2 separate regions of the Homo sapiens genome follow, and region 1 is linked to region 2. The links come from fine-mapping of genetic effects on gene expression. Tissue or cell type: whole blood. Region 2 holds a variant in brackets; the other region holds the start of a gene. All regions are shown on one strand. Distances are from middle to middle.

Evidence for each region. PIP is the estimated chance that this variant, and not a neighbour inherited with it, causes the effect.
Region 1: it holds the start of LINC00487, and the variant in region 2 is fine-mapped to the expression of LINC00487 in whole blood (TOPMed, PIP 0.99).

The regions. Positions count from the first base shown.
Region 1 is chr2:6,765,750-6,773,857 of GRCh38, reverse strand. LINC00487 (long intergenic non-protein coding RNA 487) reads left to right here and starts at 3,547. Exons shown (of 6, transcript NR_038369.1): 1 at 3,547-3,779. It overlaps LOC105373404 (a long non-coding RNA gene), which reads left to right. Exons shown (of 4, transcript XR_922745.3): 4 at 475-1,035. RefSeq lists an enhancer at 1-691.
Region 2 is chr2:6,834,320-6,842,427 of GRCh38, reverse strand. It overlaps NRIR (negative regulator of interferon response), which reads left to right and starts at 1,964. Exons shown (of 4, transcript NR_126359.1): 1 at 1,964-2,137. It also overlaps a transcript of CMPK2 not described here. The variant T/C (reference allele first, on the strand shown) is at 3,738.

The DNA of each region.
Region 1 (8,108 bases), 69 kb after region 2:
CAGGAATGCCCACAGGGGATTCACCCATCGTCATCAGCCACACGCGGGAGATGTAGGGCCAGATTTCTCCCTCCATCTGTGTGATCCCCAATCCTGTGACACTCCTGCTTCCTTTTCCCGTAGTGGGGGAACTCCCTCCAAATGGAATTTCAGTTGCTTAGATCTTTGAATTGGATAGTACTACCTATGCTCACACTAATTAAACAATTAAGTCGATGCATTTAATTTTATTTTCCCCTGGAAGATGTAATCACCAGTATCGTTATTGAGGAGGGAGGAGGGGAGAAGAAAACTCCAAACAGCAGAAAACATTCCTGAGTTCTGTGCGCAGTGCCTTTGATGGGTGTGCTCAGATTTTTTTCATCGAGGTGGTTTTGAATCAGTTGCAGGCCTTCTTTCATGTGGGTAACTATTTAAAGATGTGATATTCGGGGCAAGCGTTTGTACCAACTCATTTTCTCTGTCTTCTCCCAGGCCGCTGAGGACCGCACAGGGGAGCGGGCGGCGGCATCGCGAGGACTGACCACTGGGTGGCACTGTTGCTCCATGGAGAGCTGCCAACGGCGTCCCCGGGGACCCGGCCACGTTGAGCACAAAAGGTGGGATTTCTAAGGTGTGCTCGGTGATGAGTTTCTTAATGAATTTACCTCTTCTATGGAATCTCCCTCTGCAGCGTCTCCTGCCGCCCGGGGCCGGTTTCTGACTGTGGACTCTGGGTTGAGCCCATGGGGTCAGTGCGCGTGGAGCTTGCACTGCCCAGACCCACAGCCCCAGGAGCAGCCACCTCCCGTGTCACCCGGGCGGCGTCCTGATGACATCACTTAGAAGATTAAAAATAAATTGAAGCACATGTCACCTTAAAGGGGGCACAAAAAGGACATCTGCATGATTTGATGCATCCATGAGAAAGGGCTGCTGGCTTTTGATTTAAACTGTTGGGAAAGAGGATTTTAAAGCTTGTAAGCTGCTAGTATTTCCAAAAGAATGACTATTTTTTATTTTTTATTATTTAAATTAAAAAAGCACTTCCCTGTTCCCCTGTCCCTACACTCTAATTCTTCTTGGCTTTGATTTGGGCGATATTGTAGGCAGCTTTCTGCTCCACGGTGAAGGTCTGCCCGAGGAAGGACGGGGACAATCTTGGGGAAGATGGGGGAGGCGGGGACCGATTTTCCAGCCCAGAGCTGGGGTCTGCAGAACCAGGAGCCCGGGCCAGGCTGGCCTATCAGCCATGACCATCTGTGCACCTTAGCCACCTACTCACAGCACAGCCTCCATCTGCAGATCCACCTAGGACTCATCCATTCCTGACTGGTCTTTTGTTTCAAAACCCGGCAGCCCCGGCCCCTCCCAAGCCTGAAGTCACCACACACGCCCATCCTCCCATCAGTCACTTCCTGGCTAATGGGGACTGAGGCCCAATCATTCTCGTTTTTCATGCCTTGTCAGAGGCCTGAACACAGAGACAGAGGAAGGGAGAGAGAGAGAGAGGGCAGCTCTGGAGGAGGCGCAGAGTATGGGCAGATGTCCTCATGAAAAATTTACAAGGAATAATCAGAGGCCCCTTCTCTCCCCTCTGGCCAAAGTCCCCCTAGGCTTGTTGCCCGGGCCGCTGTGAGAATATTGGAAAAGTCCCCCTCGTTTTGAAGGCAATCTGGTTCTGGGGGGTTAATGCCCAGCGTTGATGCACTTGGCTGTCCTCTTGAGACCGGGTTGCAAATGCAGTTCAGGCAAAATTGATGAAGTATCAGTTAATCTGAGGCTGACAGTTTAGAGAGGTCACAGCTGCGAGGGGCTGCCAGGGTCTCCCAGAGACAGGACTAAGAAGAGTTAAAGCCAGGGAGGGCCCGGTGAAAGGAAGCATTCATCTTCTTCGCCTGGGCATTTCTCAAACATTGCGCCTGCCAGGATCCCTGAGCCTCTCTCCAGGTGAGCAGTGTGAGTGGGGAGGCTTTCACTCTGGTGCGCACAGTCATGCCTCCTCCCAGACAAATCCAAACCCACATGCCTGGTGTTCCTGGCTCCTTGGGAAGGAAGAAGGAGGGAGTTGCTGCTCCTAATTGAAACAGGCAGTTAGGTCTCCTATGCAAATCCCCTTGCTGTAATTGGCACTGTGAGTGCCGCCTGCTCATTCCTCCGTTTCCCGCTAGGGGAAGGTCATCTTGGTAAGAGATGTGTCCACACGGGGTGGGCTCTGAGCTGCTCAGAAGGAACTCTGCAGAAGTGGGGAACCATTGACTCACACCCTTCCCATAGGTGGTTTCCTTCAGGCTCCAGCAATTTTTTACAACAAGGTGGTACAATGAGAAAAATACCGCTCTGCTGTTAGACCACATATTTCAATCCTTGTACTTCCTAAGAGTTCTGATAGTCCAAGAGGCTGGGGGCTATGGCCATGTTTCTCACTCGAATTGCCCTGGTACTGAAATGCATCACGTGTAGGGGAGACTCAGTGTTTGTGAGCACACACTGAGTGACTATAACTGAGTGATTTCAGAGAGACAGAAGAAGGCATGCAAATGCACTTGTCTTGAGTTGTTTTCTAGGGGACATGCTCAGGGCTCTGGGACCTACCTAGTCATCTCGCTGCCTGGAGAGGCGGCTGCTTGGCCATGTTATCTCCATGCCTTCTAAATTAGGATGCGGCTTTAGGTTCACATTCATAAATAATTGGGTTTTATGGGATAGGAAGCAGCAAGGGCTTTGCGTTGATCGGCCCTGGGTTGGGTCCTGGCCTCCCTAAGCTTTGAGAATGATTTTATCATCACCATTGCCTGCTTATGGGAAAATAGGGCGGCAGTTAGTCGTGGAGTCCCTGTGACAAAGTGGCAGGTGGATGGCTGCGCCGGGGGTCTAACCTGCGCTGTCACACTCCGTTCCCTCTTCCTTTCAGTGACAAGAATGCAAGTAATAGTGCTGAGAATCGTGTGCTCAGCTGTGCTGGGCTGAGCATTTTATGTGCATGAACTCATCCCTCCCTGCGAACTTGTGAGAAAGGTATTATTATTATCATTATTAATATTATTATTACCGTATTCTCTCTGCTTACAGACAGAGAGATTGAGGTGTGGCAAGTAGGTAGTAAAATCCACCTTCTTCTTCTGTGAGGTTCCTCCTGTTCCCAGGGGTGTGGGGACGGTGAGTGGTGGATGGGTGAGGTCTTACAATGCAAAACTGCTGATTTCTACATCCGAAAAAAATCATGAATATGAACGATTATAGCCAGATTGAAACTATCATTATTTTCGGTAAGAAAAAGTGCGTCTATTCACAGAAAGTCAGGTACTTTTCCCCAAAATCACATGGGAAAAGTGTGCAAATACAGAACAGCCCTTCCAGGAAGGAACTATTTTCTCCGAAACAGGAAATTGTTGTACATTCAGACACACCATAAATACACGTCTAGTTTGTACATGGCAATTCCAGGGTCTGAGGCTCTTCCTTCCTGGCCCTAGAATGGCGTCTCTTGCGCTGTGGGCTTCCTGTTGAGGCAGGGGCTGAGGAGGTGGGAAGCAGAGGCTGAGATTTTCCTTCACCACGGTCACAGAAGATGCGCTGTTCCAGGGGCCTGGGTGGGAGCAGCCCAGGAGCCTGCGTCTCCCCTCCTCGGCCCTGGGAGGCGGCTGGACTGTGCCACACGGGACGGGTGCTGAGGGACCGCTGGGTGCCCACCTCCCTGACCCCTCCTGCAGGGGTGCCTGCCAAGCAGCCTGGGCACTGCCGTCTGGAAGATGCGCCGTGCCGGTTCTACACGGTGTTCCCTTGCTCCAGGCAGAAAGGTCAGTCCAGGCTTCTCACTCCATCGTGGCCAGAAGCCAAGTCTCATGGCATGAGATTCAACCAAAGAGAATCTCCTGGAGCTTCTTTACCTCATCAGACTTATATCCCACACAACACACACACACCCCCATCCATAAATGTGTGTATGTATATACCACACACGTACACACACATATGCCACACACATGCACACCACACACACAGAATGAATACACATACACCACACACATAAACACACACGTGTGTATGTATATATCACACACTTAAACACACGCATGCCACACACGTGCACACCACACACACAAAATGAATACACAGACACCACACACACAAACACAGAGATATCACACACATACATACACACACCATGCAACACACAAACATGCATACACATATTCCACACACAGAAACACACAGACACCACACATATACACACAGACATGCATACACACAACACACATATAAACACACAAATGCCACACACCAACACATGCCACACACAAACATGCACACACATACACCACACACATAAACACACAATACCACACACATACACAGACACTAACACACACTACACAAACATGCACACACATACACTACACACAAAAATACACAGATACCACACACATACACAGACACTAACACACACTACACAAACATGCATACACATACACCACAGATGTAAACACACAGATACATACATACACACACACCAACACCCACACTACACACATAAACACATGCATCATATGTAACACACATTACACAGACTTATATCCCACACAACACACACATACCCACATTCAACACACACACTTGCTCACACCCCTTCCCACACAATCCAACACACACACCCCCACATTCAACACACACGCATGCTCACACCCCTTCCCACACAACCCAACACACACACACCCACATTCAACACACACACTTGCTCACACCCTTTCCCACACAACCCAACACACACACACCCACATTCAACACACACATATGCTCACACCCCTTCCCACACAACCCAACACACACACACACACGCCTCCACGTACATCTTTTTATGGTAGTTATTTTTTTGTAAGTAAAATATTTGTATAATATCAGCTTATTGTTTGCCATAGCATAACTTATTTCAAACTTGTCCAACCTGCAGCCCATGTGGCCTGGGGTGGCTTTGAATGCAGCCCAACCCAAATTTGTAAACCTTTTAAAAACATTGAGATTTCTCAGCTATGATTTTCTTTAGCTCATCAGCTATTGCTAGTGTGGTGTATTTTATGTGTGGCCCAAGACAATAATTCTTCTTCCAATGTGGCCCAGGGAAGCCAAAAGACTGGACGCCCCTGAATTATGTGGTTCTCATCCTAGGTGATTTTGCCCCTGGAGGTAGGTGGAAAGTCTGGAAACATTTTTGGCGATCGCAGCTGGAGGGGGCTCTTGGCATCTACGGGTGGAGCCAGGGTTTAGGGTGTGTGCAGCACCAAAGGCTCGATGCCTCCCCAACACCAAAGAACCCTCTGAGCCCGTAGTGCGGAGACCAGAAACCCGATTTCAATTTCCTAGTAAAAGAAAACGGAAATGAAAACGACAAAACGGTCCTGTGTCTTCTCTCTTCTCGGTGCAGCTATCTGGATGGGGCGACTTGGAATTCCGAGTCTAGGCCTTGCACTGATTTTCCCCCCTGACATCTGGGAAGCCATTTCACTGTTTAAAACCAAAGATGCTGAGTGGCAGCTGCCACCAATTGGAAGGGGACAGGAGAAAGGGATTTTTATGAAGAGCCTGTGTGCCTTGGATGCTGCAGGTGGAGACCTCTGCAGTTTGTCCAGCAACTGCCTGCCAGAGATGGGCCAGAGAAGGGCCAAGCAGCTCCCTCCTATCGGAGGTCCACAGGTGGACCCCCACCCCCAGTCTCCATCCCCGGTCCACGCCCCAGTCCCTGCTGGTGGGGAAGCTGGGGAGCAGGCCATGCGTGTAATTCCAGAAGCTATTGCATGGCAAAGGCTACGTGCCCTCAAAGCCCGGGCACCTCCCTGGCCCCACAACTGCTTCACACAATACTTGTGTTTCTGTACGTTCTATGTGAAGTTTCAGGAAAGAATCTGTAAGTGATGTCTAAAGCAAGTTTCTGAATATTTATGCTGTAATACACGGCCATGAGCATGCTGGCTACTCATTTCTAATCCTATGACAAATGCACAAGGGCAGGTACTGGGAGAGTGAACTGTTTCCCTGGCCAGGGACCCAAGCACCACTTGGGGCATCAGAAGGAAGCCCTCTGGTTTTGGCCAAGGAGAAGCTTGCACTGTTTTACTAGAAACGTCCTATGTGAATCCATCCTCTGTGATTCCACGACTTTGTATGACTTGCTTGGTGCTTCCAAGGACGTAGGAACTGAAGGGTGGGGCATGTTCTGTGCACTTTTGTCATGGGAAAGCTGGCTTTTGGGAAACCCCCTGGCCCCACAGTTGCTCCCAGAAGCCATACTGGGGGAAGGGCCTGGGGAATGTTCCCAGAGGGTCATGTTGCCTTGATTCATCCTGATGGGGATTTGGGGAAGGGCGAGTGACACCATCATGACTGGGTGCGCCCAGACTGCCTGTCTGCCCTGCTATTTAGAAGCAATATTAGCGAGGGCTATAGTTTTTTTTTCTTTCTTTTTTTTTTTTTTTTTTAATCAGTAAAAATGAGTTCCTAACTTTAGTTCAGAGTCTTAGTTAGGTTTCAGTTTCAGAGAACTCTTTCAAAAAAGGGAATATGTTAGAAGGCCCACAGTGGCCCTTAATAATTTTGAATTAGCGTTAGAATGAGACACCTGATGGCAGTGATTCCGAGTGGAGACCCTGGGCCAGCGTCCCCAGCACCGCCTGGGAACCTGTGAGAAGCACAGCTTCTGGGCCACACCGTAGAGCTGTCTTTACATTTTATACCTCTTCAAACACCGCATAGTCTCACTCATAAGTGGCAGTTGAACAATGAGAACACGTGGACACAGGGAGGGAATATCACACACTGGGGCCTGTTGGCGGGTGGCGGGGCTAGGGGAGGAATAGCATTAGGAGAAATAACTAATGTAGATGAGGGGTTGACGGGTGCAGCAAACCACCATGACACGTGTATACTCATGTAACAAACCTGCATGTTCTGCACATGTATCCCAGAACTTAAAGTATAATATAAAAAGAAAAAAAAATTTATAACTCTTCCAGCAGTTTCTATCCATAGCACATAGAGCTTGTGTTTTGGTTTGGTTTTGCTTAATTTTCACAAGCCTGCAGTTGAAAGTGAAATGAGATGAGGTTAGCGAAAAGAGGCAGGAACTCTGGAACCTTAAGGTCCTACAACTTCAAATGTGTCACTGGCAATAACCTGGCTGCCATTTTGGTTTTGTCTAAATGAAAGCAATGATCAGTTAGTGTTATATAAGATATAAACATTTAAAATGTTCAAAATTCCCTAATCTTTCAGAAATGTAAATTGAGACAAAGAAAGGTCAGGGTTTCTCCTGGGACCACCCGTTGTCCCCAGATCAGACAAAAATCCAGTCTTCTGAATTCCCGTTGCAAAGTTGTGTTTGCATCACTGCATCTTGATCCTCTTCCTACTGCAATGTTTTAATTATCTAAAGAATAAGGGCATTAGATATGAGGGATAACATCATGAAGGATTTCCAAACAATTCGGTAGCCAGCGAAGATCACTGTTTGCTTAATTTCAATTGAGAGAGACAGGTCCGTCTTCTACAATGAATGCATTTTACACATTTTTAAATGTTTGCCTCATTTATGACATGTTTACCTTAAAAAAAATTTAATAAATGATTTTGGGCCAGGCGTGGTGGCTCATGCCTGTAATCCCAGCACTTTGGGAGGCCGAGGTGGGTGGATCACGAGGTCAGCAGATTGAGACCATCCTGGCTAACACGGTGAAACCCCATCTCTACTAAACATACAAAAAATTAGCTGAGCATGGTGGCACGTGCCTGTAATCCCAACTACTCGGGAGGCTGAGGCAGGAGAATCGCTAAAACCTGGGAGGTGGAGGTTGCAGTGAGCCGAGATCGCACCACTGCACTCCAGCCTGGGTGACAGAGAGAGACTCCATCTCAAAAAAAAAAATTTCATAAAGATGGGTTTTCTCTTATCCTGCCCAATCTTAACAGATGTTTGAAACCGACTCCCATAAAAAGTAGGCTTTGTAATCGAGTCTCAGAAAGTCTGAGGCTGCCTAGGTCTGCCGGATGCTCCCATTCGGTGACCTTGATACTAAACAGGAAAGGAAAGGGCAGCTCCATTTGCCCGAAGGCTTTTAACAGAGCTGGTGGGGGCTGCT
Region 2 (8,108 bases):
AAGTTGAGCATGAGGAATGACCTGATTGTTTACACCCCCTATAATGTAAAGGGACTGTTATCCTCTAAAGGAAGTCTCTGGCTAACAGATAATCGCCTCCTCAAATATTAAGTTTTGCTGCTGGAGGGATCTGCAGTTCAGTTAAAGGCCTGTCCTTTCCTGAACTCAGCCACTTTCCTTCCAGATGAAATTGGAGAACCTGAACATGATTGTGAAAAAATAGTGATGCAAACCTATGCAGCCAGAGAGGACATCCAGGAAACTCCTCTAGAAAACTGAGACTGGGCTGTCTTTACAAGTAAAGTTCTATTATAGAACAAGGAACCTGTAGGGCAGGGTATGCAATAGTCACCCTGGATGACATCATTAAAAGCACACCTCTTTCACCAGGTACAGTGCTCAATTAGCTGAGTTAATTGCTGTCATGAGGGTGCTTGAACTAAGCAAAGCTAAGGCAGTTAACATATATATGGATTCTAAGTATGCTTTCCTGGTTCTTCATGCTCATGCCGCTATTTGGAAAGAAAGACACTCCCTGACTGCTAATGGCTCTTTTATTAAATACCATTAGGAAATAGATTGTTGTCCTCAGTTTTCCTTCTGCAGGAAGTGGCAATGATACATTGCAAAGGACACCAGAAGGGGATGGATGAAATAGCTGAAGGAAATAGGCTAGCAGACCAAACAGCTAAGTCAGCAGTAAGAAGACCCCAAAGTCCCAGCACACTTGAAGGCTGTCTAATTTGGGAGGGCTCCATAAGGGAAATAAAGCCTCAGTATTCTCCTGCAGAGATAGAATGGGCCACCTCTCGAGGATACACTTTTCAGCCCTCAGGATGGTTACAATCAGAGGATGGCAAATGTTATTTGTCAGTCTCCAGTCAGTGGAAAGTTCTTAAGATCCTTCACCAAACTTTTCACTTGGGAAAGAATAAAACTCATCAAATAGCCCAGAGGTTGTTCTCAGGTAAATATCTACCAAAAACAGTCAAACAAATTGTTAATGCTTATAAGATCTGCCTCAAAAACAATCCCCTCAACAAATGGCATCTCCCCATCCCCAGCAACACAAAGAATGGGAAACTGCCCAGGGGAGGACTGGCAAATGGATTTTACCCATTTTCCAAAGATAAGGGGAATTCAGCACCTCTTGTTGTGGGTGGATGCCTTCACTAGCTGGGTAGAGGCATTTCTATGTCAAACAGAAAGTCCTCTAAGGTGATAAAAGCATTAGTCAATGAAATAATTCCTCGTTTTGGACTCCCTAAATACCTCCAAAGTGACAATGGCCCCTCATTTAAGGCAGCTGTTACCCAAGGGGTCTCAAAAGCACTGAGCATACAATACCATCTTCATTGTGCTTGAAGACTGCAGTCTTCAGGGAAGGTGGAGAAAACAAATGATATCATTAAGAGACACCTCAGGAAGTGGTCTCAAGAAACTCACCTCCTCTAAACTGCTTATCTTCCTATAGCCTTAGTGCAGGTGAGGAGCACCCCTTCAAATTTGGGGTTGAAGGGGTGTTCCTTCACCCTTTTGAAATGGTATATGGACGGCCTTTCCTTACCAATGATTTTATATTACATCAGAGAACTTCTGAATTGGTTAAACATGTAACCTCCCTGGCCCAGTTCTAGCAGGAATTAAAACAGTTATCAGAATTCCAACCCCAAGAACTAGGGCCACCTCTGTTCTACCAAGGAGACTTGGTACTGGTGAAGGATTTTTCCTCTCTTTTCCCCTCTCTAGGTCCCAGCTGGGAGGAACCTTATACCATCCTTCTCTCCACCTGCTCGGCAGTGAAGTTTGTGGGACTGGAATCTTGGATTCATCACACTCGAGTCAAGGCCTGGAATGACCCCTGACATCCCAGAAGAACATCTCAGATATCAGTGTGAAAAGTCTGGGGATTTCAAACTGAAAATCCAAAAGATAAGTAAATGAGTGGGAACTCTCTGTTCAGTTCAATCCCACCCTTCCTTACCAGATACTAAAGTCATTTCTACCTTTCCTCTTGAGATTTGCTGTTAGATATTAGAACTTCTCTTTGTCACATACTTACAGGGAGATTTTGATTATCCATGGGATTCCATTCATAACCTCATAAACCACCCCCACGAAGAAATTATATATCTCGGTGAGTAAGATTTAAAGTGGAACTTTATTACTTCACACATATGGGAATTGTTGTACTCACCTTGCTCTTTGCAGTAGGACTGCATACTGTGGCACCTTCTAAGTGGAATATTGGGAAAAGAGTCTCAATTGCCATAATCTTTTGCTTAGTTATTATTCATATAGCAGGGATAGTAGTCACAGGCAAGAGATAAACATGAAGATTTTGTTACTATCAAGTTTACTAGCATTCACTGTTAGATGTAGCAATGCCTCACATTCTTTGGCTCCTACAATATCAGATATTACCGATCTCTACAACAAGACTGATTACTGGGTTTGCCCTGAACAATTTACTCAGTTTAATAACACCAATGGACTCTTTGATGATTCAGAACTCACTATCTTAGGGTTTCCCTCTGATGGCTTTACCTTAAATCATTAAGGACCTAATAGGTATAAAGGGAACATGGTATGGGAGCATTTTTAACTCCACCCAGAAAGACACACCTCCTGATGGTAAAACTCACACCCTTAGACTAGGTGAAGTTGATAGAATGATAGCCAATGCCTGTCTCTGCTTTAAGAGTAAAGGAAAAGGACCATACTCGGGAAACCTTAAATAATTGCAACAGTATGCTTGTAATTGCTGAGAGCACAGAGATCTGGAGACTAAGAAGGAACAAGGGTGACACCAAACATTGGGAGAGACTGTGGAAAAATTTTAACAATCTAGCCAGACCTCCCAGGTGGAGTTCCCAATGGGAATGTCTACCCCGGGCAGAAATGCCACCCCTCGCCAACCTTATTATCAGGTAATAAATAGCACATGGTCCTTCCCAAACATGCCCACACATGGAATCCTGGACCCTTGTATGATATTTGATAATGACAGTGATCTGCAGATTTGTGAATGAACAGGGGATGTCTGGGCCAATAGCCGCTGTAAGGAGGGTTGTCTAAGATACTGGCTGGAACATATTGCGTCTCTGATCTTTCAAAACTATATTTGCCAAACAGATTCTTCCCTCCCAGCATGTAAAGTTCCAAACAATACTGTGGATGACTATACTAAGTATGGATATCCTTATTCTAAAGATGCTTGAATTAGATGTAGGGAAGGCAACCTTATAAGGCCTGGACTAAACTTAGCTGGAACCCTCATAAATCACAACATAGAACCATCCCTTCAGGGAACAGGGCTTTACTTTCTCTGTGGCTCCAGGCTATGCTTATTCCTCCCCAGGCGCTGGAGAGGAACATGCACTATAGTGGCAATGGTCCCCAATTTGTTATTTTTAAACCCCACTGACAGGGTAGCATTGTTGGGTGACATCGCCAATTTGGGCTCTTTTACAGAAAGTGCATTCCATCACACATACCAAAACAGGAGATCACTTATCTCTATGCCATCATATGGAGATTAAAATGAAAGAGAGAGAACTGGCAAGAATATGCACATGGCAATCCTATATTAGAAAAACGGAATAAAATATGCAATAGCCAGAGGCCTATTTTGGCTTGGCGGTGTTCCCCTTCTTGAAAGATCAGTGCTTAATATTTCTATCATGATGTAACAAGGGTGAAAGGTAACTGTAGGAGCCATAAAAGCCCAAGAGCAG[T/C]CCATAAATTCTCTGGCCTCAGTGGCCATGCAAAATAGACAAACTCTTGATGTCCTTATGGCTGAAGTAAGGGGCGCTTGTGCATTTGTAAATGAAACATGCTGTTTCTGGATCAACACCTCCAGTTAGGTAGAGGAGAATTTATGAGTGCTTAAAGACTCAATTAGAATCATTGACAAATTAGGTGAAAATGCAAACTCAGTTGGCTACAATCCCTTTTTAATGGATTCTAGTCTTTGTTTTGGACCTGGTTAGCTCTCTACTAGGACCTCTTTTTCCCGTGTGCCTTGTGATAATGTTTGGACCTTGCATACTCAATGCTATAACCAGAGAGATGGAGAAAAAGATGAATGGTACTCCCATGTGGAGTGCCACCACAGCCCTGGGCCCTGCCTCCTTGTACATGTGATGAGCACATTTCTACCTGGTTTAAGCCATTCTTGATTTGGGTTTCTGATCCACACAGAGTTGAATGTATATTCTTTTACTTTTTGCACCAAGAACCTAGGACACCTTCACTAACATATGGGACTAAAATGTTGTTGTTGTTGTTGTTGTTTGAGACAGAGTTTCACTGTCACCCAGGCTGGAGTGCAGTAGCCTGATCTCGGCTCACTGCAACCTCTACCTCCCAGGCTCAAGCAATTCTCGTGCCTCAGCCTCCCAATTAGCTGGGATTACAGGCATGCACCACCATGCCCGGCTAATTTTTATGTTTTCTATAGAGATGGAGTTTCACCTTATTGCCCAGGCTGGTCTTGAACTCCTTGGCTCAAGCAATCCTTCCACCTCAGCCTCCCAAAGTGCTGGGATTACAGGTGTGAGCCATTGTGCCCAGCCAGTACTAAAACTATTTAAAAGGAACCCATGAGGCTGGGTGTAGTGGCTCACGTCTGTAATCCCAGCACTTTGGGGGGCCGAGGTGGGTGGATCACTTGAGGTCAGGAGTTCGACCTGTAGTCCCAAATACTTGGGAGGCTGAGGCAGGAGAATTGCCTGAACCCGGAAGGTGGAGGTTGCAGTGAGCTGAGATGGTGCCACTGCACTCCAGCGTGGGCAACAGAGCAAGATTCCATCTCAAATAAAATAAGATAAAAAATAAAAAGAACCCATGAGATATCAAATACTAAGCATATTAAAGAAAATACTGAAATCAATTATATGCAATTATTGATTGATTGCTTAGAGCTTAACAGACTAGATCCTGTGGAGTTTTCTTTCTATCTGCTAGACTAGGGTGCCTTGAGAGAAGGAACCTTGACGCTTTCCTATGTAAAAGTTGTCATACCCTGAAAGTGCCAGGTACAAAGATGACAGTCAATTCATGTTTCTTGTTTAATTCTCAAAGTTATAGTCTAGACATAAGTTACACTAGAGGATTAGAATATATAATAAAGTACGAATTATGTGATATGGACAATGAATCAGTTTAAAATATTTTTGAAGCCAGGAGACATGCCCAATGCTTTTTGATGTCTCCCACAGCCAACGTGGAGTTTGAATGTCTTAGCTCAGTGGTTCCCAACTCTGGTTATACATTAGAATCACCTGTGCAAGTTTTACAACAAGGGATGCCATGACCCTGCTACAGATCCATTAAGTCAGACTGTTCAGGAATGATGTGTGTGTGTGTGTGTGTGTGTGTGTGTGTTTTCCATTTGATCCAATGAACAGTTGGGATCAGGCACTGATCCACTTACATAGTTTCAAATATTCCTAAGCAAGTTGAAGGCACATGGCCAGCTACTAACACACCATTTTCCAAAGCATGAAGTTAAATCACAGTCTGTGAGGCAGACATGGAAAATAGCTAACCACTCCTTTGTGGAAAGGGCTGGGCCAGCTGAGCCTAGCACCACAATGTCAGTGCAATTCTGTGATTATCTCTTGTTCAATGTGCATTTTAAGGTATATATTATATGGGAGAGAGGTATTTGCAAATTTAAGGAGTCAAGAATATGTCAGGATTTAGTCCTCATAAATTTCATGTATTTAGAGAGTGACATAATGCTGTTTGTCCCACAGTATCTACTTACCACTTATTCTTGGTGACAGAATTTTAGCTGGATGCATGACTTTCTAGATTATGACTGCATTTCTTGGACTGTCTTGCAACCATATGTGCCACTGAAGTATGGTCTAGCCAATGGGGTGTGAGCAGATAAATATGTACCTCTTCAGGACTGTTTTTGCTCTCACAGAGGGTTGTGCTCAGATCCCATAGTCCTTTTCTGCCTTTCTGCTCATTGGAAGATAATAAGAATTGAAGAAGTCACTTTGACTGTGAGAGGGAAGTTATAGGTTGAGATGGTAGAGTCAGCTCACCTGCCCTTGCTGCTTACCTTGAACTGTTACGGGAAAGGAACATTCATCTCTATCTTGTTCAAGGTATGGTGATTTGGTAGTCCCTCTCTCTCTCTCTCTCAGAGAAAATAATGTTATATCTTAACATATACTTAATGTGCTCATTTATGGTGAGTTTGTATAACTGATCTCTTACTTTCTAACTTTATTATTCTCAAATAGAAAAGTAAATATATAACAAAGGACTATTGGGTATGGCATAGGCAGTTGTGAAATGAGTTAATATTGATATAAGCACACATTAGAAAAAAATTTATAGGGAAGGGAATGGAGCTTGGCTTTGAGAAATGGGCAGACATCCTTCAAATTTATTTTTGTTATATACAACTTTGTAAGTGACAGTTTAAATTATCTTAGAAAACAGACCAGGTCTTCAGAAGGCCCTGAAATATATGTCTTTCTTTTTCTGATGGGATCCCAAATGGAGTTTCTTGATTCTTGCCAATGTTAAGTCAGTATTCATTTTCACCACTGAATTTTGAGATATAGAGTGCATTAATCACTTGTACAGAAGCAGAAAAGATATGAACAAACTCAGATTGAAAAGTTGACTTCATGGCAATTTGTTCTCTGAGTCATATTTTTCCCTCCTTTTATCTGGGTTCAAATATGTCATTATATAATTTAGAAACAGATGTAATTCCTCAGCTACAGTGTCTTCTGCTCAATGCCATGTTGTTTCTGCACCTGGTATGACTAAGTAAGCTCTTATCATAGCTGTACTTCCTGTGGAAAACAACTGTCAACTCTGGAGAAAAAAATGTTCTGCAGGCAATGTAAAGAAGAGAGGAAGATTTTAGAGTGGACTTGAAACTTGGAAGAAAGGAATGTCTTAGGTTTTTATTCTAATGATAGGCCCATGTCAGCTCCACCTTGGTGACTAAACCCTGATAGAAAAGACATAAGGGTCTTTCTGTTATGAAATGAGACCACTGGGAAATGAAGGACAATCTTGCAAAAAAGATAGCCAAAAGGGGGAAACCCTAAATTTTGAGTATATACTCTGCCCAAATCTCTGGCTAATTCACAAATCATAGATGTGCAGGATAGACTTCACCAAAAGTTAAAATATTTGTATGAGATTTGAGCTGACATCCAAAAGAAGGTGTGCAGTTCTTGTCAAATGAAGCTAATTGCCCTCTAGAACTCAATTCTTTTTAGAGGACTATAACAGAATCCAGAGTCTCCACCATGTAATATACACAATATCCAATATACAATCCAATATTATGAAACATACAAGGAACCAAGAAAATATAAAGCATTATCAAGAGAAGGAAATTGATCAATTGAGAATAACCCCAAGGTGACCCTGTTGTTGGAGTTAGCAGATAAGAAATTTAAAGCAGCTATTATAATTATGCTCAAGGATGTAAAGGATATGCATGTCATAAATGAAAAGATAGGAAAGCTCGTGGAGAAGTGGAAACTCTAAAAAGGTATCAAATGGAAATTATAGAACTGAAAATTACAACAGCTGAAATTAAAAGCCATCACTGGATGGCTTTAGCGGTGTAATAGAATTGACAAAGGGAAGAGTCCATATACTTGAGGATAGATTAGTGGAAATTATCTGCTCCAAAATATAAACAAAGCATTGGAGATTTGTGATACAATATGAAAAGATCTAACATACGTCTAATTGGAATTCTAGAATGAAAAGAGAATGAGAATGAAATGTTTTTTAAATGTGAAGGAACCATATTTCCCCTTTTATGGGTAAATGTTTTCACAAAATGTTTCTCCAATATAGTGAAACATAAATTTACAGATTCAAAACATCTCAGTGAACCCCCATCATTGTAAATCCAAAGAAAACAATGCCTAGGCATATCATAGTTGTATTGGACAGTGACCTTCTAAAACTGATGTCCTTTCTGGAACTTCAGAATGTGACATTATTTGGAAATATGGTTGCTGCAGATGTAATCAAGTTAAGATGACATCATATTGGATTAGAGTGAACCTTAATCCATTATGACTAGTGTCTTCATAATAAGAAGGGAA